Homo sapiens: one gene and its partners. The protein of the gene in region 6 purifies or fractionates together with the protein of the main gene of each other region. This does not show direct contact. Each region holds a gene or a part of one and is shown on either strand. Other genes may lie near its edges.

The links.
Region 1: the proteins of SARAF (region 6) and MRAP2 purify together in Homo sapiens (co-immunoprecipitation; one large-scale study listed by IntAct). This does not show direct contact.
Region 2: the proteins of SARAF (region 6) and SERPINA9 purify together in Homo sapiens (affinity purification with mass spectrometry; one large-scale study listed by BioGRID and IntAct). This does not show direct contact.
Region 3: the proteins of SARAF (region 6) and IDH2 purify together in Homo sapiens (affinity purification with mass spectrometry; one large-scale study listed by BioGRID and IntAct). This does not show direct contact.
Region 4: the proteins of SARAF (region 6) and ITIH2 purify together in Homo sapiens (affinity purification with mass spectrometry; one large-scale study listed by BioGRID and IntAct). This does not show direct contact.
Region 5: the proteins of SARAF (region 6) and ANXA8 purify together in Homo sapiens (affinity purification with mass spectrometry; one large-scale study listed by BioGRID and IntAct). This does not show direct contact.
Region 7: the proteins of SARAF (region 6) and ACP7 purify together in Homo sapiens (affinity purification with mass spectrometry; one large-scale study listed by BioGRID and IntAct). This does not show direct contact.

Annotation. Positions count from the first base shown.
Region 1 is NC_000006.12:84,036,772-84,040,271, forward strand, and holds part of MRAP2 (melanocortin-2 receptor accessory protein 2), read left to right. Parts: intron 1-3,500. UniProt on the Homo sapiens protein: Modulator of melanocortin receptor 4 (MC4R), a receptor involved in energy homeostasis. Plays a central role in the control of energy homeostasis and body weight regulation by increasing ligand-sensitivity of MC4R and MC4R-mediated generation of cAMP.
Region 2 is NC_000014.9:94,462,221-94,466,197, reverse strand, and holds the end of SERPINA9 (serpin A9 isoform A precursor), read left to right. Parts: intron 1-1,343; coding exon 1,344-1,491; intron 1,492-2,901; coding exon 2,902-3,105; 3' UTR 3,106-3,477; downstream 3,478-3,977. UniProt on the Homo sapiens protein: Protease inhibitor that inhibits trypsin and trypsin-like serine proteases (in vitro). Inhibits plasmin and thrombin with lower efficiency (in vitro).
Region 3 is NC_000015.10:90,082,545-90,085,468, forward strand, and holds the end of IDH2 (isocitrate dehydrogenase [NADP], mitochondrial isoform 1 precursor), read right to left. Parts: intron 2,844-2,924; coding exon 2,731-2,843; intron 2,555-2,730; coding exon 2,457-2,554; intron 2,365-2,456; coding exon 2,272-2,364; intron 1,810-2,271; coding exon 1,722-1,809; 3' UTR 501-1,721; downstream 1-500. UniProt on the Homo sapiens protein: Plays a role in intermediary metabolism and energy production. It may tightly associate or interact with the pyruvate dehydrogenase complex.
Region 4 is NC_000010.11:7,744,816-7,748,315, reverse strand, and holds part of ITIH2 (inter-alpha-trypsin inhibitor heavy chain H2 precursor), read right to left. Parts: coding exon 3,353-3,500; intron 1,724-3,352; coding exon 1,612-1,723; intron 1-1,611. UniProt on the Homo sapiens protein: May act as a carrier of hyaluronan in serum or as a binding protein between hyaluronan and other matrix protein, including those on cell surfaces in tissues to regulate the localization, synthesis and degradation of hyaluronan which are essential to cells undergoing biological processes.
Region 5 is NC_000010.11:47,477,616-47,481,115, reverse strand, and holds part of ANXA8 (annexin A8), read left to right. Parts: intron 1-1,227; coding exon 1,228-1,318; intron 1,319-2,374; coding exon of another isoform or gene 2,375-2,488; coding exon 2,489-2,583; exon of another isoform or gene 2,584-3,500. UniProt on the Homo sapiens protein: This protein is an anticoagulant protein that acts as an indirect inhibitor of the thromboplastin-specific complex, which is involved in the blood coagulation cascade.
Region 6 is NC_000008.11:30,066,065-30,069,564, forward strand, and holds part of SARAF (store-operated calcium entry-associated regulatory factor isoform 1 precursor), read right to left. Parts: intron 855-3,500; coding exon 713-854; intron 76-712; coding exon 1-75. UniProt on the Homo sapiens protein: Negative regulator of store-operated Ca(2+) entry (SOCE) involved in protecting cells from Ca(2+) overfilling.
Region 7 is NC_000019.10:39,108,368-39,111,993, reverse strand, and holds the end of ACP7 (acid phosphatase type 7 isoform 1 precursor), read right to left. Parts: intron 1,942-3,626; coding exon 1,876-1,941; 3' UTR 501-1,875; downstream 1-500.

The DNA of each region.
Region 1 (3,500 bases), on a different chromosome or scaffold from region 6:
CTGTTTCACAGAGAGCTGATTGGTCCGTTTTGACAGGGTGCTGATTAGTGCATTTACAATCCCTGAGCTAGACACAGAGTGCTGATTGGTGTATTTACAATCCTCCAGCTAGACAAAAAAGTTCTCCAAGTCCCCACTAGATTAACTAGACACAGAGCACTGATTGGTGCATTTACAAACTTTGAGCTAGACACAGGGTGCTGATTGGTGCATTTACAAACCTTGAGCTAGACACAGAGGGCTGATTGGTGCATCCAAGAACCCCGAGCTAGACAAAGAGTGCTGATTGGTGTATTTACAATCCTCCAGCTAGACATAAAAGTTCTCTAAGTCCCCACTAGATTAGCTAGACACAGAGCACTGATTGTTGCGTTTACAAACCTTGAGCTAGACACAGAGTGTTGATTGGTGTGATTACAAACCTTGAGCTAGACACAGAGTGCTGACTGGTGTGTTTACAATCCTTTAGCTAGACATAAAAGTTCTCCAAGTCCCCACCAGATTAGCTAGATACAGAGTGCTGATTGGTGCATCCACGAACCCCGAGCTAGACACAGAGTGCTGATTGGTGCATATACAATCCTCCAACTAGACATAAAAGTTCTCCAAGTCCCCACCTGATTCAGGAGCCCAGCTGGCTTTGCCTAGTGGATCCCACGCCAGGGCCATGGGCGGAGCTGCCCACCAGTCCCATGCCACAAGCCTGCACTCCTCAGCCCTTGGGCGGTTGATGGGACCAGGCGCCATGGAGCAGGGGGCGGCGCCCGTTGGGGAGGCTCGGGCAGTGCGGGAGCCCACCACGGGGTGGGGGGCTGGGCTCTGGCATGGCGGGCTGCAGGTCCTGAGCTCTGCCCCACAGGGAGGCGGCTGAGGCCCGGTGAGAATTTGAGTGCGGCGCAGGCAGGCTGGCAGTGCTGGGGGACCTGGCGCCCCCTCTGCAGCTGCTGGCCTGGGTGCTAAGCCCCTCACTGCCCAGGGCTGGTGGGGCCCACTGAGTCTGCGCCCACCTAGAACTCACGCTGGCCAGCCCGGGTTCCTGCCCCTCTCTCTCCCTCCACACCTCCCCGCAAGCAGAGGGAGCCAGCTCCAGCCTCGGCCAGCCCAGAGAGGGGCTCCCACAGTGCAGCGGTGTGCTGAAGGACTCCTCAAGCATGGCCGGAGCAGACACTGCTGAGGAGGTGCTGAGAGTGAGCGAGGGCTGCTAGCATGTTGTCACCTCTCAGTGGGGCCATTTGAGGGTGAGTTGAGCTGTCCATGTGCTTCTTGCATTTGGGGCTCACACAGGGGCCTAGGTGGCTGGATCACTCACCTTCCCAGAGTTTGTTGGGCAAAGGATGTCTGAAGATGATCTGGGAGCCAGGTGGGGCCACATGGGAGGAAGGGCTGGCCTAAGGGCGAGGGCCCCTGGCAGCAGAAGTAGGAATGAGCAGCCAGCTGAAGGAAGGTGAGTATTACTAACACACCCATGTGAGGTATGAAGATAGTTAATTCAGTCCTTTCCTCCTGCTTTGGTCTTGGAGTGATGTGAAACTAGCTAGCAGTTGAGTGGATGGTGGAGAAATAGAAAAGAAGTTTACCTTCCCCCAACCCCAGCAGGAGACCAGCATGCAGCAGGACATTGCAGAAATAGGGCAGATTTGTGTTATAATGGGTCAGAGTTTCTTTTGTTTCCAAAGATTAGACATTTTAATTCTTTTAGGTTTTTATATTTCTTATTTATTTATTTATTCATTTGAGACAAAGTCTCACTCTGTCTGTTGCCCAGGCTGGAGTGCAGTGGCATGATCACAGCTCACTGCAGCCTCAACCTCTTGGGCTTAAGTGATCCTCCCATCTCAGTCTCTCAAGTAGCTGGGACTACAGGCACAGAACACCATGCCCAGCTAATTAAAAAAACTTTTTTTGTAGAGACGTGGTTTTGCTATGTTGCCCAGGCTGGTCTTGCATTCCTGGGCTCAAGTGATCCTCCTGCCTCCACATCCCAAAGTGCTAGGATTACAATTGTGAGCCACTGTGACTGGCCTCTTTTGGGACTTTGAAGTTGTTGCATGAGCAGAAACATCATGGGATCTACTCAAGTATTTGTTTGAGGGCAGGGAAGATGAATCCCTTGAGTGTATTTTGAGGCGCAATAGAAAACCAAAATACAGTTGACATTTGAGCAGGCCCCACAAGTTGTGCTAGCTCAGAGTAGGTAACATATGCTTGGGTTAAAATTAAGTAGAGTAGCAATCTGTGTTTATTGTTACATTTACTTTTGACAAAGGAAGACTTAGAGGCAGAAGCAGTTAGAAAAGGAAAGAAAATGTTTACTTCCCCAGAGTGCAAGGGAGTCAGGCTTTATAAGACTGGCTCATCAAATAAAATCACAATAAATACTTGAAAGAAAATATTCCACCAAATTACCAAAGTTCTCCATTTACATTAGTCTGTTGTTCATGACTAAAAACAACTTTCTTACACAATTATCTATTCCTAAAAGTCGTGACTTGTTTTCAGACATCAGCATAGCAAACAATCAAGGGAAAAAATTATTTCTTTAAGGGAATGAGATGTGTTTGAAGTTTTATTTTGGAGACCAACTTTCAGGCAGGATGATCATGTTATTTTTGCTTCATGTCAGGGTACAAAGTGATTTTTTTGCTTGACTGGAGTATGAGAAGTGCTTAGTCCTATTGGAGAGGTGGAAACTGTGCATTTTCCTTGCAATCATGATTCTGCAGTCCCTTATAGTATTGTTGAGATATGAAGTAAAAAAGCAGAAGTTGAGACTAGCTTTATGAGATGCTAAAATTATATATGTTAAAATCTGAGTTTAATTGTTGCTCGTGTTTCTGTTATCAAGACCTGTGTAATTTTTGCCTCACTAGAGAACGTTAGTAAAATTTCATAACCCTTCAAGTGAAAATAGTTTGTAAGCTTCAAATAATTCTCCTGCAAGGTGCATTTGTTTTCCTCTTGCATGTTCTTGGTAATAGCAAAAATAACAATCACTGGAAGGCAGAGCAGGCTGAGGGAGGGGCTTCTTAAGGATTAGTTTTGAAGTTGCCTGGTTTAACAAGAGAGAAAAATTAGGAGCTGAGTGAGAGAATGTGGTTGTAAACGTTTTCTGTCTTTCTACAAACCTTTGTATAGATTATTTCAGGAAATATAATTCTATCTTCTGTGGGGAAAAAAAGAAACGAGAGAGAAAGAAACAAATTTAAGATCAACTATCTAATATAAAACCTACACCATATTCCTACCAGTGTGATATGATTTGGCTGTGTCCCCGCCTAAATCTCATCTTGAACTGAATTCCCATAATCCCCATGTGTCGTGGGAGGGACCCACTGGGAGGTAATTGAATCAGGGGGTTGGTTGCCTTCATGAGTTTTCATGAGACTGATGGTTTCATAAGAGGCTTTCCCTCTCTTCACTCTGACTTCTCCTTGCTGCCGCTATGTAAAGAAGGATGTGTTTGCTTCCCCTTCTGCCATGATTGTAAGTTTCCTGAGGCC
Region 2 (3,977 bases), on a different chromosome or scaffold from region 6:
GATGAAGAGATGCTGCAGGGTGTGTCAGCGATTTCTTCTCTTCTCAGGCTGCATCTGGGGCTGGGGATAGGAAGAGGAGGTGGCACAGAATTTCAGGGAGGGAGGGACAGAGTACAGAGCAGCAGATGGAGCACAGAGAAAACAGGGAAAGAGGACAGTGGCAGGGAAAAGAGAGCTGTCCCTGGCATGAGGGGTCACAAGACACCTGTCAGATGAGGACTGAAATGTGTCCATCCAATATTTTTGTGCTTTCGTTGCTGTGAGTCACTAAGTACATAACCTTGGGCAAAGCACTAAAAGTAAGCTTTACCGTCTTTAAAAGGGGGAAGTGTTGTTGAATGTGCCTGGGACAATGTCTGGCATATAATAAATGTTCAGGCTGGACTCACGCCTGTAATCCTAGCACTTTGGGAAGCCGAGGCGGGTGGATTGCCTGAGCTCAGGAGTTCAAGACCAGCCTGGGCAACACGGTGAAACCCTGTCTCTACTAAAATACAAAAAAATTAGCCGGGCATGGCCACGTACACCTGTAATCCCAGCTACTTGGGAGGCTGAGGCAGGAGAAACACTTGAACCCACGGGGTGGAGGTTGCAGTGAGCAGAGACTGTGCCATTGCACTCCAGCCTGAGCGACAGAGTGAGACTCCATCTTAAAAAAAAGAAGTTCAACACATGTGGGCTGTTTACTCTTGGTTCAGGGAAACCATTGCAGAGGAAAAAAAATATTGTGCTAAATTATCAGGTGGTGCTGTTCAATATAGTAGCCGCTAAGCCACCTGCAGTAATTTACACTTAAGTTAACTGAAATGTAGTAAAATTAACATTTTAGTTTCTCATTTGCACAAGCCACTGTTTAAGTTGCTCAGTAGCCACACATGGCTAATGGCTACCGTACTGGAGAGTGCAGGTCTAGGATCTTCCCAGCATCACAGGAAGTTCTGCTGGACTTTGCTGCTCTAGGGCATTATTAGCAGGGCTTGCATCAGGAAGTGCTGCTGAGGAGGTATTCCGGACAGTGAGTGGGTGGTTGATGAGCTTCCATTGCTACTGGACGTCTCCTGTTGGTTTCTGCCATAGACTCCCTTGCTGACTGCTTTTTCACCTCTGCACCCACTTCACTGGGGGCTCGTCTATCTCCTTGCATGTTTTTAGTGCTGGACCTGCTCAGCTGGGAGGCTTATTTCAAGAGCAACCTGGGTTTCTTGGCTAGGATGTGTTGACCTTTTTAGCAGAAATTAGCAGTGGTTGGAGGAAGAACGGAGTCTCCCAAAATGGCATCTAGGAGCAGAGATGCAGACACCATGGGCTTGTGACCTCATTGTTTCCTTTTCCCTACTCCACAGGTGGATAGAGGTGTTCATCCCCAGATTTTCCATTTCTGCCTCCTACAATCTGGAAACCATCCTCCCGAAGATGGGCATCCAAAATGTCTTTGACAAAAATGCTGATTTTTCTGGAATTGCAAAGAGAGACTCCCTGCAGGTTTCTAAAGTGAGTTGAATGAAAATATTTGCAAAAAAGTCCAAGCTGGAAGCACCTGCAGAATTAATCACATGCTCTTATTTCGTTGATAAGGAAACAGAGGCCTGAAAGGTGAAGTCAGGGTCTTCTGCGGCCAGAAGAACCGAATCTTGCGGCCTATGGCCACCATCCCTCTGGCATGCAGCATCTGTTATCCCTCTTCACACAAATGTTCCGAAGCCATCCTCAGCAGTCAGGTGCTCCCCCATGCCTGCTGCAGGAGAGCAAGTGCTCCCTCAGGATCTGACCTCACTTTCTTCCTCCCTGAAGTTTAGGCCCTCACACAGGCATCACAGTGTGGCTGCCCATAGGTCATCTGCACCCTGTAGATGTGTTGTCTGGCCTTCAGTGTGTAAGGAGAGAGAGAGAGAGAGAGAGAGAGAGAGAGAGAGAGAGAGAGAGAGAGGAGTTTTAAAGCATAGTATATTAGATCTAAAAGTCTAGATTTCTGATCCTCTTGAAATAAATCACTAACTCTAATTCCCACATGGCAACAGTGAGCCTATGTGTCCACATGGCAGCCATCACAGGAGCTGAGCTATGAGTGCCCCTTTTAACCAGACAGTATCCTCCAGGTAATGTGGGCACCCCATGCTCTTACAAGAAGTCTCCGTCAGTTAATTGGGGTTACCTGCCTAGCCCCTGCACACATATGGGTTACTGATCCCTGACCTAAAATTTTATTTTGATAGTGGATTATAATAGAAGTGATCCTGGGGCCACTGAAGGGGACCTTTGTCATTGGTTTTCAGAAAATGTTGAGAGGCCCCACTGGAATATGATGAACATAATGGACATTTTCTCGAGGAAAGTGTATCTGTGAGCCTATGAAAAATAATGCCTGTAGTCACAGGAGCTCAAGCCTCCCTGAAGCTTAGAAATCCAGGAACTCCAGGTTAAGAATCTCTTCCCTAGAAGACAAAGAAGGGATCTAACCTTAGTCATATCAAACCCATGTCTGCCATGCAAGAACTGCAGCAATTACTACTGCTGGCAAGTCCACAAGCACTTGCTTTGTATGATCTCTCTTAATTTACACAATAACCTTACGGGGCATATGCAGTTATTATTACCTTTTATAGATCGGGAACCTGAAGCACGCAGCATCTTAATAATTTTGCAACCATAAGTGGCAGAACTGAGACTCACTCCGGTCTTCCTGCTCTGTGTTTGTAACCATCTCAATCCCGGTGTAAGGACCAATGGGCCATAGTCAACACCCACTGCAATGTATTGAGTAAACCCAATGCCAGGCATTTGAACCTTGAATCCTTTCAAGGTAGACATCACCATTCCAGGGCAAAAGCACTCAGTTTAGTTTACTCAGTTAAGTAAAAGTGTCTCCACTAGGGCCACTGATGTTTGTTTTTCCCTTGGCAGGCAACCCACAAGGCTGTGCTGGATGTCAGTGAAGAGGGCACTGAGGCCACAGCAGCTACCACCACCAAGTTCATAGTCCGATCGAAGGATGGCCCCTCTTACTTCACTGTCTCCTTCAATAGGACCTTCCTGATGATGATTACAAATAAAGCCACAGACGGTATTCTCTTTCTAGGGAAAGTGGAAAATCCCACTAAATCCTAGGTGGGAAATGGCCTGTTAACTGATGGCACATTGCTAATGCACAAGAAATAACAAACCACATCCCTCTTTCTGTTCTGAGGGTGCATTTGACCCCAGTGGAGCTGGATTCGCTGGCAGGGATGCCACTTCCAAGGCTCAATCACCAAACCATCAACAGGGACCCCAGTCACAAGCCAACACCCATTAACCCCAGTCAGTGCCCTTTTCCACAAATTCTCCCAGGTAACTAGCTTCATGGGATGTTGCTGGGTTACCATATTTCCATTCCTTGGGGCTCCCAGGAATGGAAATACGCCAACCCAGGTTAGGCACCTCTATTGCAGAATTACAATAACACATTCAATAAAACTAAAATATGAATTCATCTGTCAACAGAGTCCTAATCTGAAAATGATTTACTAGCGAACTCGCGATGGCTGGGCTGTCATCCCATGACATCTCAGAGGCTGCATGATTTTTTTCCTTCATTTATTCAGCAAAAATTTATTGAACACTTAACATATGTTAGGAGTAAATCAGACAGACAAGATTCCTGGCCTGTTAGGCCTAAATGGGGGAGACAGACCCCCCTACAGCAACAATGAAACCAGACCTATAAACATGATCGTAAGAGCTTATGATAAGTGCCATGAAGGCATTGAACAGGATGACTGAGAGTGAGGATAGGACAAGGGAGGGGTGTGAGCATGAAGGCTGTGAGTCAGGAATGAGTGGCATGTTGGAGAGACAGAGCAGGGACCTTGTGGCATCATGTGTGGCAGATGGAAGAAATGAGAACACAGAGGCTCAAAGAGGTCGGCTGGTGGAGGCCATTGTTAGCCAAGGAGAGAGTCTGGGTTTGTGGGGAGCGCCGGGACACCGGCTGACGAGGG
Region 3 (2,924 bases), on a different chromosome or scaffold from region 6:
GCTGGTGACAGGCAAGAAGAGGCAGGAAGCCTTGAGCTTCCTCCCAGGGGCTGGGCCTGCTAGAGCCAGCAGTCCACGTTTCTTCTTATAGCCCTGAGAGTTTCAGGGCATTACTCAGGAAAAGCAAGCGGGGGGTCACCAGTGTGGATGGAGGGCTAGAGCCCTTCCAAAGCCACTCAGTCTACCGCAATGGTCGGGTTTCAGGAGCCATAGGAGTCCCCCCAGTATTTAGGAAAGGGACTTTGTAAGATGGGGTTTTGAGAGATGGGGTCTCACTCTGTTACTCAGGCTGGAGTACAGTGGTGCAGTCATAGCTCACTACAGCCTCAAACTCCCGGGCTCAAGTGATCCTCCCACCTTGGCCTCCCAAAGTGCTGGGACTATAGGCATGAGCCACCACACCTGGCCAGGACTTTATAAAGATTATACAACTCTTCTCCAGGACATTTTAACACCAAAAAGAAGAAGCTTTGCAGAACTTACTATGCAGAGGACAGTCCTTTTGATTATATGTAGCTTTAGAGCAACTTTTATTTTTCCTTTTTACATGGGGCTAAAAAACTTGCATAGAGCAATTTTTTTTTTTTTTTTTTTTTTTTTTTTTTTGAGACAGAGTCTTGCTCTGTCACCCAGGCTGGAGTGCAGTGGTGCAGTCTCGGCTCACTGCAACCTCTGCCTCCCAGGTTCAAGCCATTTTCCTGCCTCAGCCTCCCGAGTAGCTGGGACTGCAGGTGCGCATCACCACGCCTGGCTAATTTTTGTATTTTGAGTAGAGATGGGGTTTCACCATGTTGGCCAGGCTGGTCTCGAACTCCTGGCCTCAAGTGATCCACCCACCTCAGCCTCCCAAAGTACAGGGATTATAGGCGTGCGCCACTGTGCCCGGCCGAGAACAATTTGTCACAAGCTTACTTTTCTAGTTTTGCCAATGCATGGTGAAAGTGAACCCAAGCCTGGGAACTGCAGGCCTAGACAATGCAGGGCCCTTGTTCACACACACCCAAGCCCCTCCAAACTCAGGCAGCCTTGGAAAGGAGAAGTGTGAGGCAGGTGTGGGTAGGACCTCTTTTTAGTACCTAGAAAAAGGCTAAGAAAGTGGCCTGGAGATGTTTAGAAGGTTAAAACCAACGAAGAAAAAAATCAATGACAACCTATCAGGAACTGATTGACTCTCAGAATGGAGAACTGGACACAGAAACTGGATCATGCTAGAAAATTCCAGGGAACCCACAGGCCTGTGCCCTGAGTGTCCGAGAACTCCGCAGTGGGCCCCTGTGGAATGCGGGCTCCCAGGGCTGCCTGGTCCCTTCCCTGCCGTGGCAGCCCCTTCCTGAGGTGCTCTGGTCTGCCCCAGGGGAACCTGCCAGCTCTAGCAGGGCCTCTGCCTCAGGGTCCCACTACCTCCTCCCCTCAGGGACAAACACAGCAGACAATTTTGTGAAGAGCTTTTTAGTAGCTAAATATGGCACCATGTGTTCCAAGGGCAATATAAATTACAGTATGCAAAACATACTGACTGGCTGAGGTAAAACGCACTGCTCCTGCCTCACGTCACCATGAGGGGAAACACACATATGCTTTTAAAAACATCTGGCTTATAAAAAAACATCCCCTAGAAAGGCCTCCAGAGAGGGGCTGTGAGGCTCACCCTCTGCCGCGCTCAGGAGGACCCGCCGGCTCAGCCCTGGCCCCTCCACTGCAGCCATGGGTGGCGCCTCCCCCTACTGCCTGCCCAGGGCTCTGTCCAGGTTGCTCTTGATGGTGTCGAGGAAGTCCGTGGTGTTCAGGAAGTGCTCGTTCAGCTTCACACTGCAGAGAGAGCACCACTCACATCAGGGGTGGCTCCAGGCCTTGCCAAGGCCATCAGCCAGGCCCTTCCAGGGAACAGCCTGAGCTTGGGCATCAGAACAGCCATCTCCTGCCACCCAGACTACAGGCCAGAGGCCAGCTATAGCCCCCTACCATGAGGCCACCGAGATTCGGCAGGCACCCGCAGGGTCTGTCTTGCCAGGTAACTGCTCTCCTGAGAGAAGCTGGGAAAGGGGTGTGGGCAGGGTCGGAAGGAGCTCTGAGTAGCCAGCCTCAGGGATGGGGAGGAACTCACTAGACCTGGTCTACAGAGGCTGGCCTGAGCAGTCTCTCAGGGCTGTGGACATGTCCTGCCCCAGGCCCCCTTGCAGCTAAGCTGACTCATGAGGGGGACTTTAGGAGGGGTCCCCTGGCTTCCTCCCACATGGCCCCAGGGTCTGCCTACCACCCCAGGCCACGCACTTGCTGAGGCCGTGAATGCAGCCCGCCAGGTCCTTGGTCATGGCTCCACTCTCCACCGTCTCCACGCACACCTTCTCCAGCATCTGGGCAAACCTATGGGGATGGGGCAGAATGAGACCCCATCTGTGCAAGGGCAGGACCCAGAGCCTGTCCTGGGCAGCTCCGGCCTCTCCCTCCATGCTCACCTGATGAGGTCTTGGTTCCCATCCAGCTTCCCCCGGTGCTCCAGGCCACGTGTCCAGGCAAAGATGCTGGCGATGGGGTTGGTGCTGGTGGGCCGGCCCTGGGGACGGGGGTTGCAGGGAGATCAAGAGCCGAGCCAGCTAGTGAGGAGGCTGCCCAGATACAGCTGCCCGCCCCTGGGCTGGTGGGTCAGGCTCGTCCTTCCAGCCCTCAGCCCAGTGGGCTTTAGGCCCCTGGGGTAGAGGGGCATTGTGAGGCCCCATGCCCTGCACTCACCTTCTGGTGCTCCCGATAGTGGCGGGTGACGGTCCCATGAGCGGCCTCAGCCTCAATCGTCTTCCCATCAGGGCAGACCAGGACGGACGTCATCAGGCCAAGGGAGCCAAAGCCTGGAGGGTAGAAAGCCTTTCTCTCAGGGCCTCGCCTCTCCTGGGGCCACCCAGCTGAGCCCTGCTGCCCTCTACAACCCA
Region 4 (3,500 bases), on a different chromosome or scaffold from region 6:
TGCTTGCAGTGGACCAAATCGAGGCCCAGCATTTACTTTTTGTCATTATAGTAAATATATATATATATGTATACATATATTTATTTATATATGTATATATAAATATATATACATATTTTATGAGATGGAGTCAGGCTGGAGTGCAGTGGTGCTATCTCTGCTCACTGCAACCTCTGCCTTCCGGGTTCAAGTGATTATCCTACCTCAGCCTCCCGAGTAGCTGGGAATACAGGCGCCCGCCACCACACCCGGCTAATTTTTGTATTTTTAGTAGAGATGGGGGGGGTTTCAACATGTTGGCAAGTTGGTCTTGAACTCCTGACCTCAGGTTATCCACCCACCCAGGCCTTGCAAAGTGCTGGGATTACAGGCGTGAGCCACTGCGCCTGGCCTATTTATATATTATGTATTTATTTATGAGACAGGTCTCTCTCTGTTACCCAAGCTGGAGTGCAGAGGCACAATCATAAGTCACTTCATCCTCGAACTCCTGGGTTCAACGGATCCTCCCACCTCAGCCTCCTGAGTAGCTGGGGCTATAGGCAGAATCTACTACACCTGGATAATTATTTTTATATTTATTTTTATTTTTGTAGAGATGGAGTCTTACTATGTTGCCCAGGCTGGTCTTGAACTCCTGGTCTCAGGTGATCCTCCCACATTGGCCTCTCAAAGCATTGGGATTACAGGCATGAGCCACCATGCCTGGCAGTAAATGCCCTTCTACCAACTTCAGATAACTTACTATTAACATTAATAATTTGTGCTCACCATTGCTTCTGTGACACATGCTCACTGATTCCCGTCGGTACCTCATTCCTCCCATAAACTGATACTAATTGAATGGCATATTCACTAAGAATCCATTGTTTCAGTTCACAAATCTACTTTCGTGGCAATACTTCCGACTACAATTTTATGTTACAATGTTATGGTTTAATTAAGTATGTCAAAGCCAATGACATTTGTGGGCGTGAAGAATCCTTTCTAATAAAGCAAAGTTGGCTGCTTTGTAAAAACTCTAAAAAGGGGTAAGCTGCTTTAAAACGGTATCAAATTTGGCATGGGTGAGACAACTGTAAAGGACTGGGAAAAAATATCAAGATTTGTAAGACTTTTACACTCAGAATGCGTTATGAGCGTCTAAGTTCTCACTTCAGATGAAGCATATGGGGGTGGTTTGTGTAAGAAAAGCTACAAAAAAAGCAGTCAGAGATCCCTGTGCAAAAGGAAAACTCTAGCCTGATGTAAAAATCTACATTCATTCTGCAGCACTATGGTAATAGGTGTTTTATGATTCTCTCCTTTGATCAACGTGTCTGGTTATCCAACTTGTGAAGCTCTTGTGAGGGCTTCTAAAGTATGAAGATGAGAACAACAGGTTAGTTAATCTTGGCATTGCATGACCCTAGATACCCAGTCATTATTTGCATTTAACGTGGGATATCAGAAGTGTCCTTATGCGAATGCTGTGTGCGTCTATTCCTAATGAACTGCTTAGTGTGATGTAGGTAGTGCCTACGACACTTCTTCTTTGCTCCTCTATTTTGCTGTGTGGGTCTAATTCTAACACAAGGCCTTTTCGTCACTGTCCTTACGCCCGAGGCCTACCTGGTGATGATCAGCTTCTGCCCCTTCACTTCCATGCTGGCCTCTGGCTTCTCAGGGTCCTTTCCTGGTCTCTCATTGAAGATGTGTATCTTTGGTTCCTGCATGAACTGGCCTAGCAAAACAGAATCAGACATTGATTGACATGTAATCATAGTTAAATAAAAAGAGGCTCATTATTGACTCCATGCTACCTTTCGGTCCTCCCTCCAGGATTTCTAGGGTGGAAAGACAAGCTGAGAGGAAAAAGGAGTGGTGATGGGAGGGAGGGTCCTTCCTGGGAGCACATTTGTGCTGCTCACCATCTTTTTTTTATTTTTATTTTTTTAATTTGAGGCAGGATCTCCCTCTGTTGCCCAGGCTGGAGTGCAGTGGTGCTATCTCGGCTCACTGCAACCTCCACCTCCTGGGCTCAAGTGTTCTTCCCACCTCAGCCTCCCAAGTAGCTGGGACCACAGGCGTGAGCCACTACGCCTGGCTAATTTTTTGTAGAGACAGGGTTTCACCGTGTTGCACAGGTTGATCTTGAACTCCTGGACTCAAGCGATCCACCCACCTCAGCCTCCCAAAGTGCTGGGATTACAGGTGTGAGCCACTACTCACAGCCTTTTTTTTTTTTTTTTTTTTTTTTTTTTTTTTAAATTTAAGATTTGGGGCCGGGTGTGGTGGCTCACACCTGTAATCCCAGCACTTTGGGAGGCCGAGGTGGGCAGATCACCTGAGGTTGGGAGTTTGAGACCAGCCTGACCAACATGGAGAAACCCCATCTCTACTAAAAATACAAAATTAGCTGGGCGTGGTGGTGCATGCCTGTAATCCCAGCTACTCGGGAGGCTGAGGGAAGAGAATCGCATGAACCGGGGAGGCAGCGGTTGCGGTGAGCCGAGATTGCGCCACTGCGCTCCAGCCTGGGCAACAAGAGAGAAACTCCATCTCATAAATTAATGAATTAATTAATTTAAGAGATGGAGTCTCCCTCTGTCACCCAGGCTGGAGCACAGTGGCACAGTCATAGCTCACTGCAGCCTCCAATTCCGGGGCTCAAGAGATCCCACCTCAGCTTCCTGAGTAGCTGGGACTCCAGGCAGGCTCCACCATACCCTGCTAATTATTTTTATTTTCTAATTTTTTGGTAGAGATGGGGTGCCCAGGCTGCCCTTGAACTCCACAAGCAAATCCACCTGCCCAGGCCTCCTAAAGTGCTGGGATTACAGGCACGAGCCACCATGCCTGGAGCTCATGGTCATTTTATACATGAGGTTGGTCTAGTGGATTGTAAGTAAATCGAGCACCCTGATGGCAGGAGAATGAGGTGAGCACCTGAGAGTATAGCTCAGATCACAGGAAAAAGTTTTGTTTGTGATGTCACAGGCTTTATATTTGAGCCCTTCTTAAAATACTAGGGACATTTGTCCAGAGTGTTCTGCTTGTTATCACAGACCTCCTAAATGGGTTCATCTTGCTTCAGTTAGAAAAAAATCTTTAACATAAAACTTAAAATGTATCTGTCCCTTCTCTTAACTTGCCCAGTTTGTGATGCTGAAATCCTGGCCCTGGACAACCTTGTCTGGAATGGCAAAAGGTCCTGGCTGTCACATTCCCGAGCGACCCCACACTGCTATGTTAGTCCTCTGTGCTCATGAGTCCACACCTGCCATGTCCTCAACTTGTAACCACTGTCAACCAAAGCTGCTAAAGAATTAGAGCGGCCCCACCCTTGTCAGATGGTCAATAGACACTTTACCTATTAGTCCGTGGGCTTTAGGTGAGAACTTGTTTGTAGGGGGTATGTAGATTCCCAGAAAGTCAACATTGACGGGATGCTTCTTCCAAACACGATGAAGTAAAACAGAAAAGGACATCTCTTTATCCAGGGTGATAGTTACCACTTT
Region 5 (3,500 bases), on a different chromosome or scaffold from region 6:
TGGATGGAATTTCCATAGGAATTATTTCTAACAATTTCTGCTGTGAAACATGGTGCTAAGAAATGACTCAGGAAGATCTGTCACCAGACATTTGAAATTAAAGCAAAGAGTTCAGAAAGATGCCTTACCTCTTACTCAAAGGAAAGATACTTACAGATATACCATCCATTGGAATCTCTGTATTTTCACAATCTAACCCAGGGCTTCGATGGATGGATGGATGGATGGATGGATGGATGGATGGATGGATGGATGGGCGGGTGCATAGATGGATGGGTGGGTGGATGGATGGATGGATGTGGTAGTCAAATGGGTAAGTGCGTAGGTGGGAAAGTAGATGGGCAGATGATGGAGGTGATGGAAGGAATAAGTGAACAGGTAAATGGAAGACAAGACTGGATGGGACTAAACTCTTTTTCATCCTGGAGGATCTCTGAGTCTCCCTCTAATTCAATACCTATCTCCAATATCCCTCCATTCTCTACCATTCCTCCACCCAAAACACACTTATGTCCATGTTAATCATCTGAGAAATTCTGCAGGGCACAAGTTTAAAGAGCCTTCAGGCAAGCCCTGAACTGGAGGCTTGGAAATCAAGGGCTCAGGCACTTGGTTATCTGGTTTATTTCACAATCTGCAGAGCATCGTGCGGGTTTTTCTAAACCTGACGCTCTGAGCCCCATGGGCCTGTGGACTTGCAAACACCCTGAACTATCAATATGCTCAGCTGGGCCCCTGCCCTCTAAGTTGCTGTAAGTCCCAACTCCCCAGGAAGAGGGCAGACTGAGCTCAAACCATTCCTCAGAAAGGCAGAACCATGCTCAGCCTTCCAACCTCATCTGCACACTCTGAAGGTGGTGCATGCAGCTCCAGGAAGCCTTTGCTTCAGTGTTCTTTCCCCTCCTAACTTTGGGTGAGTTTGTCCCTTCCTGCTGCTGGTGGGTGATGCTGGAAGGAGCTGGGTGTGGCTGGGGCTGCTGTCTGCAGTCAGATGGCACAGACAGGGACAGGAAAGGTTTTGTGGCTTCTCCCCACAAGCTCTGGCTCTGGCTACTCCACCCTGTTGGCCAAGGGGCTGAAGGGCAGAGCACTGGCCTGCAAGGGCTGAGCAGATCTCCGTGCCCAGGGAAGGGGCTCACCCTGTCAGGGCGGGCTACCAGATGGGCTGGGAGCCTGCTCTGCCCTCCCTGTCCCTGCCTGCTTTGAGCAGGCCTGGTTCTCTTGCAGATTGAACAGGAGGGTGTCACAGTGAAGAGCAGCTCCCACTTCAACCCAGACCCTGATGCAGAGACCCTCTACAAAGCCATGAAGGGGATCGGTGAGTGGGTGTTGGCAGCCTTGCCACCTCTGCTCAAGACCCCTCCGCTCACAGCCCTGGAAAGCGGGTGCCAGGGGACATCTGGGGAGCTGGGGTGTCCCATGATACTCTGAAACTGATTCCACTACCCAGAGAATCACACAGCCCTCTGTTTCTGCAGTGAGGTCAGCACCCACCCTGCAAGACTGGACAGGAGGGTGCTGCTCTTCCCTGGGTAATGGGGGTGGGGAGGTGAGCTGTGTGTCTCTGTGAGTGACTTCCCATCAGTCTCAGCTTTCTCACTTGTAAAGTGGCCCCAAGAATTCTTGGCCTTGTGTGTCACATGAAGTGTGAAGGGGGTGGTGCTTTATGATGCCAGGCACAGAGCTGCCAGGGGTGTGAGGTGTTGGGAGTTTGTGGGGCTGATTCAAGGCCCCCTTGCCCCATGTCGATGGCCATGGAGCCGGCTCCCTTCCCATCTCCTGCACTTGCCCAGTGCTGCCCTCAGCACTACCGTGAGTGGGCGAGGGCTGGCCTGAGGCCAGATTTAAACAGCTTGCCCAGAAAGCCCTCCTGACCTGAGAGCAGAGCATGTACCCTGACCTCACCCCAGGTGGGACTGACCCCTTAGCCGGCTCTGCCTGAGGATCAGGGGCCTTAATGAGAACTGCCGCTCCTGACAAGCCCAGAAAACGTTCTCATGCCCTCTGCTTTCTGTGAAGCAGAAAGTTATCTCCACTTCCCAAATGAGAAAACGGAGGCCCAGGGAAATGAGGCTGGCTGCCCAATGCCACGCAGTTGCTGGGCCAGGCCTCGGATTCAGGGGTTGGACTCTTAGTCTTGACCTTCCCCTACTGCGACCAACACAAAGGAGGGCAGGGCCAGAGATCTCACTCGGCCAAGCTCCAAAGGCCCGGGCTGATGTCCAGAGCCACCCAGACCTCAGATTCCATCTTGTGAGGCTGGCCTTGGGCACGCCCCAACATTGTGGGGGTGTGGGGTGGGAAATGGGGAGGCAGATTTCCTAAGGGTCTTGTTTACACCACGAAAATGGTCTGGGGGTTTGGAACTATCCAGGTGTCGGGTCCCAACTGCTCAGCCACCAAGCAGCTGCCTTCGCCTTCCCCTCCTCCGCCCTCACCAGTGTGTCACCCTGGGGGCAGCAGGGTCACTTGTGCTGTAACCCTGCAGGGACCAACGAGCAGGCTATCATCGATGTGCTCACCAAGAGAAGCAACACGCAGCGGCAGCAGATCGCCAAGTCCTTCAAGGCTCAGTTCGGCAAGGCAAGGGGAAGGCTGGTGGGGGTGGGGATAGGTGAGCCTTGGGGTTGGGGGTACAGCCTGGGAGGCAGCTCCATTCTGGACGACTTTCCCCTAGAGCCAGCCCACTGGCAGCATGGGCACATGGAACATGTTTGCATGAAAACAATTGTTCTTTATTGAAATTCAAATGTAACTGGCTGCCCTGTGTTTTATCTGGCAGATCTACTTTTAGGTGTCAGAGCCCGGGCCGGGGGCTGGCCTTCCTTGCTTCCTTTCCTGCCTCCTCTCTCACAGCATTCCTTCTCATGCACCCAACAGGCCCCACTGGAGGTCTGTCTCCCTGCCCCCAGGCTATCTCGCCCTGCCCTCTGAGCCCAGACCACCTTCTCTTTTCCATGCCCCAGGCATGCAGGCCTGGCTTTGCTCTGTTCTGGGGCGTGGGCATGCTTTCCTCAGTCGAGCTGCTTGCACCCACACCTCGTCCCTTCTGCCACCTGGGAATTCTAAGAGCCTGGAGTAAGCATGCCAGGCCCTTTGTTTCTCCTCCCACCTGCACTCCACCCCTAGGACAAAGCCTGACATTTGGGGGTACACAGTAAACACAGGATTAAATATGTGCACAGCCATGGTTGCCTCAAGCCTCTAGTGACTCATATCATTAGTTTGGAGATGTAACGAAGGAAGATCAGCTCAAATATTCTCTTGGAGAACCCAGTATGCATTTTTACAGTTTCCCTCTCTTAGTCCTCACAGTGATACATTCTTTGTATTCAAACATTTGGGGAAACTGGCACTCAGAGAGGTTTTAAGTTGCCCAAGGTCCCAGAGCCTGTAATCAACAAGGTGGGGATTAAAATCCAGGTCTGACAAAGCCCTTGATCTCTCTGCTGCTCTGTAGATCAGCTGATGTAGCCTGGTGGCTCCTCGTAGCAACATGT
Region 6 (3,500 bases):
GCCCTATTCCACGTGCCAGGGTAGGAGGGAGGATAGGACGGGTAGTACCACGAGTCTGAGAAGGGTGTTGCCGCTCTTTAAAGGGATAAAAGTAGGTTAGGCATTTTTTTCTTGTGGCTATAATTTTTAAATACCTTCCTGTTCCTAAACTGTCAGAAAAAAATATCTTTATCAAGTATTTTTTCCTGAATGTTCTGGTATATCAGAGTTAACATGAAATAAAAACCGTTTCATATTTCTGCCATTATTATGGTCACTGCTATGGGGGAAAAGTGACAGGGAGTCAATGCTCTTTCTGAATTTGCACTCGAATAAAATCTAAACTTAAACTACCATTAATACTTCATATTCCAAAATCTGGCCCCAAGCTCTTTCCAGCCTTATTTTTATCATTCTCCTACCAAACCAGACTGTTCCCCAAATGCTGTCTTCTTTCCTGCCTTCTTATTTTCTCAGATGTCAACTAAACAGTCTTTTTCTTATCTCATAATATATATGAAGGTGACACAGGAAGAAACACAGTGAAAGAAAATAACATACACAATACTGATCAAAACAAATATAGTGTACCTTCCCCCTTCCCAGAGAATCTTATTTAATAGGCTAACGTCACCACAATTTATTTTCCTTAGCAAAACTAAATGCAGTTAAATTGTAAGCAAAACAAGCCTCTTGAATTAAAGAGCAAGTGAGATCAATGCAAAAAGCTTACCTATTGCTGCCAAACAAATATCCTAGTATTCCACCAGTTCCCAAGCCTGTCCAGAACCCTGGTCCTGAATTTTCATATCCTTGTTGTCCTGTAAAAGCACTGCCAAAACCAGAAGTTGCACCATGGCCAGTATTCTGTGGTCCTTAAAATAAAAATGATTTATTATGTATCCTCACTTAAACATGACAGTCTACAAAAGCAAAGATAATGTAACATTTCAATTATTTCATCTGTACTGAATTATTAATAATACTCAGGCATCAAGTTATTAACAAGTTGTATTCAAAAAGGTATTTGTAAAATACTGGTTTATAATGAGGGAGAGCATTTCCCATAGATATGGGAGGAGAGGGATAGATTTTGGGACTGGGGAGGGTCTTGCTATAAAATGACATCTGCCCTGCTCAATCAGCTACTAGAAAATCACCCCACTTTTCAGGGTTACTTTCTCTCTGCAGTACAAACTCTAAGTGGAGTCTCTAAGAGCTCCAGATGAGAGCTGTGCCTCAGTCTCTAACCGAGGAATCCAAGGGGAGGCAGCCAGATATTTATTTGTGTCAGTTGGGAAGTCAGATCTCAAAGGGACCTAAAAAGTATCTTCTGCTCAGAGGAAGTTTTAACTGATGTATACATATATATAAGAAAGTGTGCTAATCTTACACGTGTGGCACAACAAATTTGTACATATGTACCTATCCATGTAACCACCACCCACACCAATAAACCATTTCTGGCACCCCAGAAGGCTCCCTCATGACAACTCCTAATAGATTCCCATCTATGTCAGAGATCAGCACTACTTTAACTTCTCTTACCATATTTTAATTCTGTCCATTCATGAACTTTTTCTAAACAGGATCACAAAGTATGTATTCTGTGTCCGGCACATCATTATGTCTATGGGAGTCAATCCTACCATTGCATTATCAGTTTTTTTCTTAACTCATGTGTCTTCCACCGTGTGAAAAATTTACACAGTCCCATTCTAATGTTTATGGATATTCCACCTCCATTTTTTGGCAGTTATAAATAAAACTGCTATGAACATTCCTGTGCATCTTTCTTGGTGCACCATGCATTCACTTCTCCCAGGTATGTACATAGGAATAGAATTGGGTATGCATGTTTGGGTTGTTTTACCATTTAAACTCCTACCGGCAAAGTATGAAAGTTCCAGTCACTCTACATTCTTGCCCATACTTGGTACTCTGTCTTTTTAATGTTAGCCATTATGGTGGTTATCTGGTGGCTAAAAATAATCTCCCTGTGGTTTTCATCTGCATTTCTCAGGAGACTAATGATGCTAAGCACCTTTTCTTATTTCTGTTGAACATGTAAATCATGGGTTGGGACCCCAGTACTGCTCCACGGCCTGTTAGGAACTGAGCCACACAGCAGGAGGTGAACAGCAAGCAAGCGACTGAAGCTTCATCTCTATTTAAAGCCACTCCCCCATCACTTGCATTACTACCTGAGCTCAGCCTCCTGTCAGATCAGCAGCAGCATTAGATTCTCATAGGAGCACAAACCCTACTGTGAACTGCACATGCGAGGGATCTAGGTTGCATGCTCCTTATGAGAATCTAATGCCTGATGATCTGTCACTGTGTCCCATCACCCCCAGATGGGACCATCCAGTTGCAGGAAAACAAGCTCAGGGCTCCCACTGATTCTACATTACATGAGTTGTTAATTATTTCATTATATATTACAATGTAATAACAACATAAATAAAGTACACAATAAATGTAATATGCTTTAATCATCCCAAAACCTTCTCTCCCCACCCCACCCCACCCCAACCCCCCTAGTCCGTGGAAAAATTGTCTTCCACAAAGCTGGTCCCTGGTGCCAAAAAGGCTGGGGACTGGTGAAGTAGATGTCTTCTCTTATTATAAAATGGGCATTCAAGTCCTCTTTGGAGGGCCTGTCTGCCTGTTGCTCAGATTTACAGGAGTTCATTTTATGTTCTACCGGAAATACATTTTATATATATATATGCCGGAAATACGTTTCGTAAATTTTTCCCAGTCTGTAGCTTGCCTTTTCACTCTCCTAATAGTGCCTTTTGATGATTAGATGTTCTTAATTTAAATAAAGTCTAATTTACCCATGTTTTCTTTTATGGCTAGTACTTTTTATGTTCTGTTTAAGAAATCTTTCCCTATCCTAAGGTCATAACAAATATTCTCCTATGTTTTATTCTGGAAACTTAATTGTTTTACCTTTTACGTTGAGATTTATAATACTTAAAGAATTAATTTTTATGTATAGTGTGAGACAGGAGTCAGGGCAAATGATTATTAGCAAAGTTGATCAAGTTTCTCTGATTAAGAGTATTTATAATTTAATCAGGCATTTTTTTTTTTTTTTTTTTTTTGGAGACAGGGTCTCGCTCTGTCACTCAGGCTGGAGTGCAGTGGCGCAATCTCGGCTCACCGCAACCTCCACCTCCCGGGTTCAAGTGATTCTCATGCCTCAGTCTCCCAAGCAGCTGGAATCACAGGTGCCCGCCACAACACCCGGCTAATTTTTGTATTTTTAGTAAGAACGGCGTTTTACCATCTTGGCCAGGCTGGTCTCAAACTCCCAACCTCAAGTGATCTGCCCACCCCGGCCTCCCAAAGTGCTGGGATTACAGGCGTGAGCCACCGCGCCCGGCCAATCAGGCATTAACATAGCAACCACAATATACCTTGGGAGAGAGCCAAACAGAAGAGGTAAAAGAAGTTGAAAGTAAAAAACAAAATGAGAAGACAAACCTCCTTTGGTTTCCCAATGCAACGAT
Region 7 (3,626 bases), on a different chromosome or scaffold from region 6:
GAGGGGACACCGAGTCTGAGACCTGAGGTTGAGAAGGCGCCAGCCTGGGATGAGCTGGGGAGAGGGCACACAGGGGGCAGACAGCCAGCGCCCAGGCCCCGCAGTGAGAAAGAGCTGGCTGTGTTCCAGGAACGGCAAGGAGTCCTGCGTGCCTTGGGCCAAGTGAGGGGCGGGTGGGAGGGAATGAAATCTGTGGAGGCAGAAACCGCGCCCCATGACGGGGGAATAGATAGATCTCAGGTCATCTGGCAGGGCTGGGAGCCCGCAGGCCCTGGGGCAGCTGTCAGCCCTGGGGCCTTTGCCTGTGACTCGTGGAGTCCGATCACTTCCTTCACCTGCTCAGAGCCTCCCCTGGCTCCACCCAAAGTCCTCACCGTGGCCTGTAAGGCTCCATACAAGCCATCCCCACCACTGCCCTGTCCTCAAGCTTGGTCTCCCTCTCACTCTCCCTGCTCCAGCCACAGTGGCCTCCTCGTGGACACTCCAACAGGGCAGGCACGTTTCTTTGTTTATTTTTCTCTTTTTAAAACTTTTTTATTTATATATATTTTTTGAGACAGGGTCTTGCTCTGTTGCCCAGGCTGGGGTGCAGTGGCGCAATCATGGCTCACTGCAGCCTCAACCTCCTGGGCTCAAGCCATCCTCCCGCCTCAGCCTCCTGAGCAGCTGGGACTACAGGCACACACCACCATGCCCAGCTAAATTTCATATTTTTGGTAGAGAAAGGGTTTCGCTGTGTTGCCCAGGCTGGTCTCAAACTCCTGGGCTCAAGTGATCTGCCCGCCTCGGCCTCCCAAAGTGCTGGGACTACAGATGTGAGTTACTGTACCCAGCCGGCCAGGCACATTTCTGTCTCAGGGCCTTTGCACTGGCTGTTCCTCTGCCTGGAATGCTCTTCCCCCAGATGTCTGCCCACTTGGCTCCTTCCCCACCTCCTTCAGATCAAATGTTGCCCTCTCAGTGAGATCCCCCTGAAAATTGAAACTGCTCTCTCACCGTCCCTGCGTTTTCTACTCACAAATCGCTATTTAACCAACTCATTTATCGTGATTTTTGTCCAACTCTCTGGTTAGGATGTCAGCTCTGTGAGGGCCGAGATCTCTGTCTCATTCACAGCTGTCTCTCCAGCACTGAGAACAGAGCCTGGCACATGGTAGATGCTCAATAAATTATGATTCAATAAATAAAAGAAGGGAAAGAAAGGAAGGAAAGAGGGAAGGAACTGGCAAGTCTGTGGCTCTTGCGGTTTGTCATCTGTCCTAGCTAGGAGGCAAGAGTGTTAACACGTCTCCTCTTCCCGAATAAGATGGTGCCAGGCTGGGAAACTGAGGCATGAAGGGACTCTTCATAGCAGTCCTGGAGCAGTGAAGAAGGAGCCAGGCTTCAGACCAACTCTCAGTGCCGGGCTCAGAAGAAAAAGCCCCTGACGCCACCTGCTGGTGAGTAGTGTCATGACGGTTGTGCCCACCTGGCGATGCCCTTGCCAGGTGGGCAGGAGAGGAGGAAGCCCAGCGGCATCCCCCGCAGATGTGCAGAATCCATGGAGCCAGAGCTTAAGCCTCTTCATTCCTGAAGCCCCGTGGGCACCTCGCCCGATCAGAGCTATGCAGGAGGGTGGGGCCCTGCCAGCAGAAACCTGCCGTGTGTCACTCTGTGCCCGCACACCTGCCCTCCCTCCACAGCCAGCCAGGACTCCCACCTCTCCAGGAGGGAACAGCTGCCCCAGCTCCATAGGGCTGCATGTACCCTACATGGGGCCTCTGGAGGGCAGGGGAGTCAGGGCCCACCCAACTCCCCACCCAGGCCTGGGCAGTTTCTGGTCACAGCAGCCAAGGCGGCAAAACCTAGGCTTCTGGAGGAGAGCTGCCGCCATCCCTAGAGGTACATCCTCCGGCCAAACAGGGGTCTCACCACCCAGACATCATCTACGATCTTCCCATCCTGTGAGGGACAAAAACAGGGACAGTAGTTAGAGCTGAAAGCCTGAACTCTGGGGCCACATGGCCTGGGTTCCAGTCCCCTCTCTGCCCTCTGATGGGCTGTACAACCCTGAGCAAGTGGCTAGGCCTCTCTGGGCCTCAGTTTTCCTCATCTGAAAAGTGATAGGAAGAGTAACAGTACCCACATCATAGATGTTGTGGGAGTTAAATGAGATAGTATTTGTAAACAGAGCCCAGCATATGGAAAGGGCTATGTAAGTGTAGGCTATTATTAGAGCACAAACTCTGGAGTCAGACAGACCTTGCTTTATATTCCAGCACATCCACTCTTTCTCTCTCTCTCCTTTTTTTTTTTTTTTTTTTTTTTTAGACAGAGTCTTGCTCTGTCACCCAGGCTGGAGTGCAGTGGCAACCTCCGCTTCCCAGGTTCAAGCCATTCTCCTGCCCCAGCCTCCCAAGTAGCTGGGATTACAGGCATGCACCACCATGCCTGGCTAATTTTTGTATTTTTACTAGAGACAAGGTTTCACCATGTTGGCCAGGCTGGTCTCGAACTCCTGACCTCAAGTGATCCGCCTGCCTCAGCCTCCCAAAGGCATGAGCTGCTGCACCTGGCCAGCGCATCCACCCTCTAGGTGGCCTTAAGCATGTTGCTGGACTCTCTGAGCAAAACTTCCATGTTCTATGCAATGCACAAAGTAATAGATGCCCAGAGTCATCATGAGAACAGAGTGAGATCATGCACACAAAAGTCTGCGCCCGGTGCATGTGCCACTCGATAAATGGTAGCTATCAGATCCCAGCTTGGCCGTCCTCCAACTGTGTGACCCTGGGAAAATTACTTCCCCTCTCTGAGCCTCAGTTCCCTCACCTATAAAATGGAGAGGAAATCCACTCCTGTGGGATTGTTTTGGTGTATAAAGTGCTACTGGGGCCGCATGCGGTGGCTCATGCCTGTAATCCCAGCACTTTGGGAGGCCCAGGTGGGTGGATCACCTGAGGTCAGGAGTTCAAGACCAGCCTGGCTAACATGGTGAAACCCCATCTCTACTAAAAATACAAAAAATTAGCCGGGTGTGGTGGCATGTGCCTGTAATCCCAGCTACTCGGGAGGCTGAGGCAGGAGAATTGCTTGAACCTGGGAGGTGGAGGTTGCAGTGAGCTTAGATTGCACCACTGCACTCTAGCCTGGGCGACAGGGTGAAACTCTGTCTCAAAAACAAATAAATAAATAAAGTGCTACTAAATGCAGAGCATCTAGGCAGTGCCTGGTATGCAGTAGGTGCTCAATAAATCATAAATATTGTCATTATTTTAAAACTACAATGGCAAAAATAAAGAAAGGTGAGCCATTATTATTTGGATCCACCTAACCTTAAGCCACCTGTACCACATACTCATCTTATTGTTTTCCCCTACCTGTGTCCCACCCCCCATCTTTATCTTCCCCTGCCTCACAATGGTAAATACCTACAGAATTTACCAAGTTCCGCACTCTTCTAAGCATTTTATATATAATAAGTCCTTCAACCCCCATGTAGTCCTGTGAGGTGGAAACTATGATTATCCCCTCTCACAGATGGGAAAACTGAGGCAAAGAAGTTAGATAAGTGGGCCCAGCACAGTGGCTCACACCTGTAATCCCAGCACTTTGGGAGGTTGAGGCAGGCAGATCACCTGATGTCA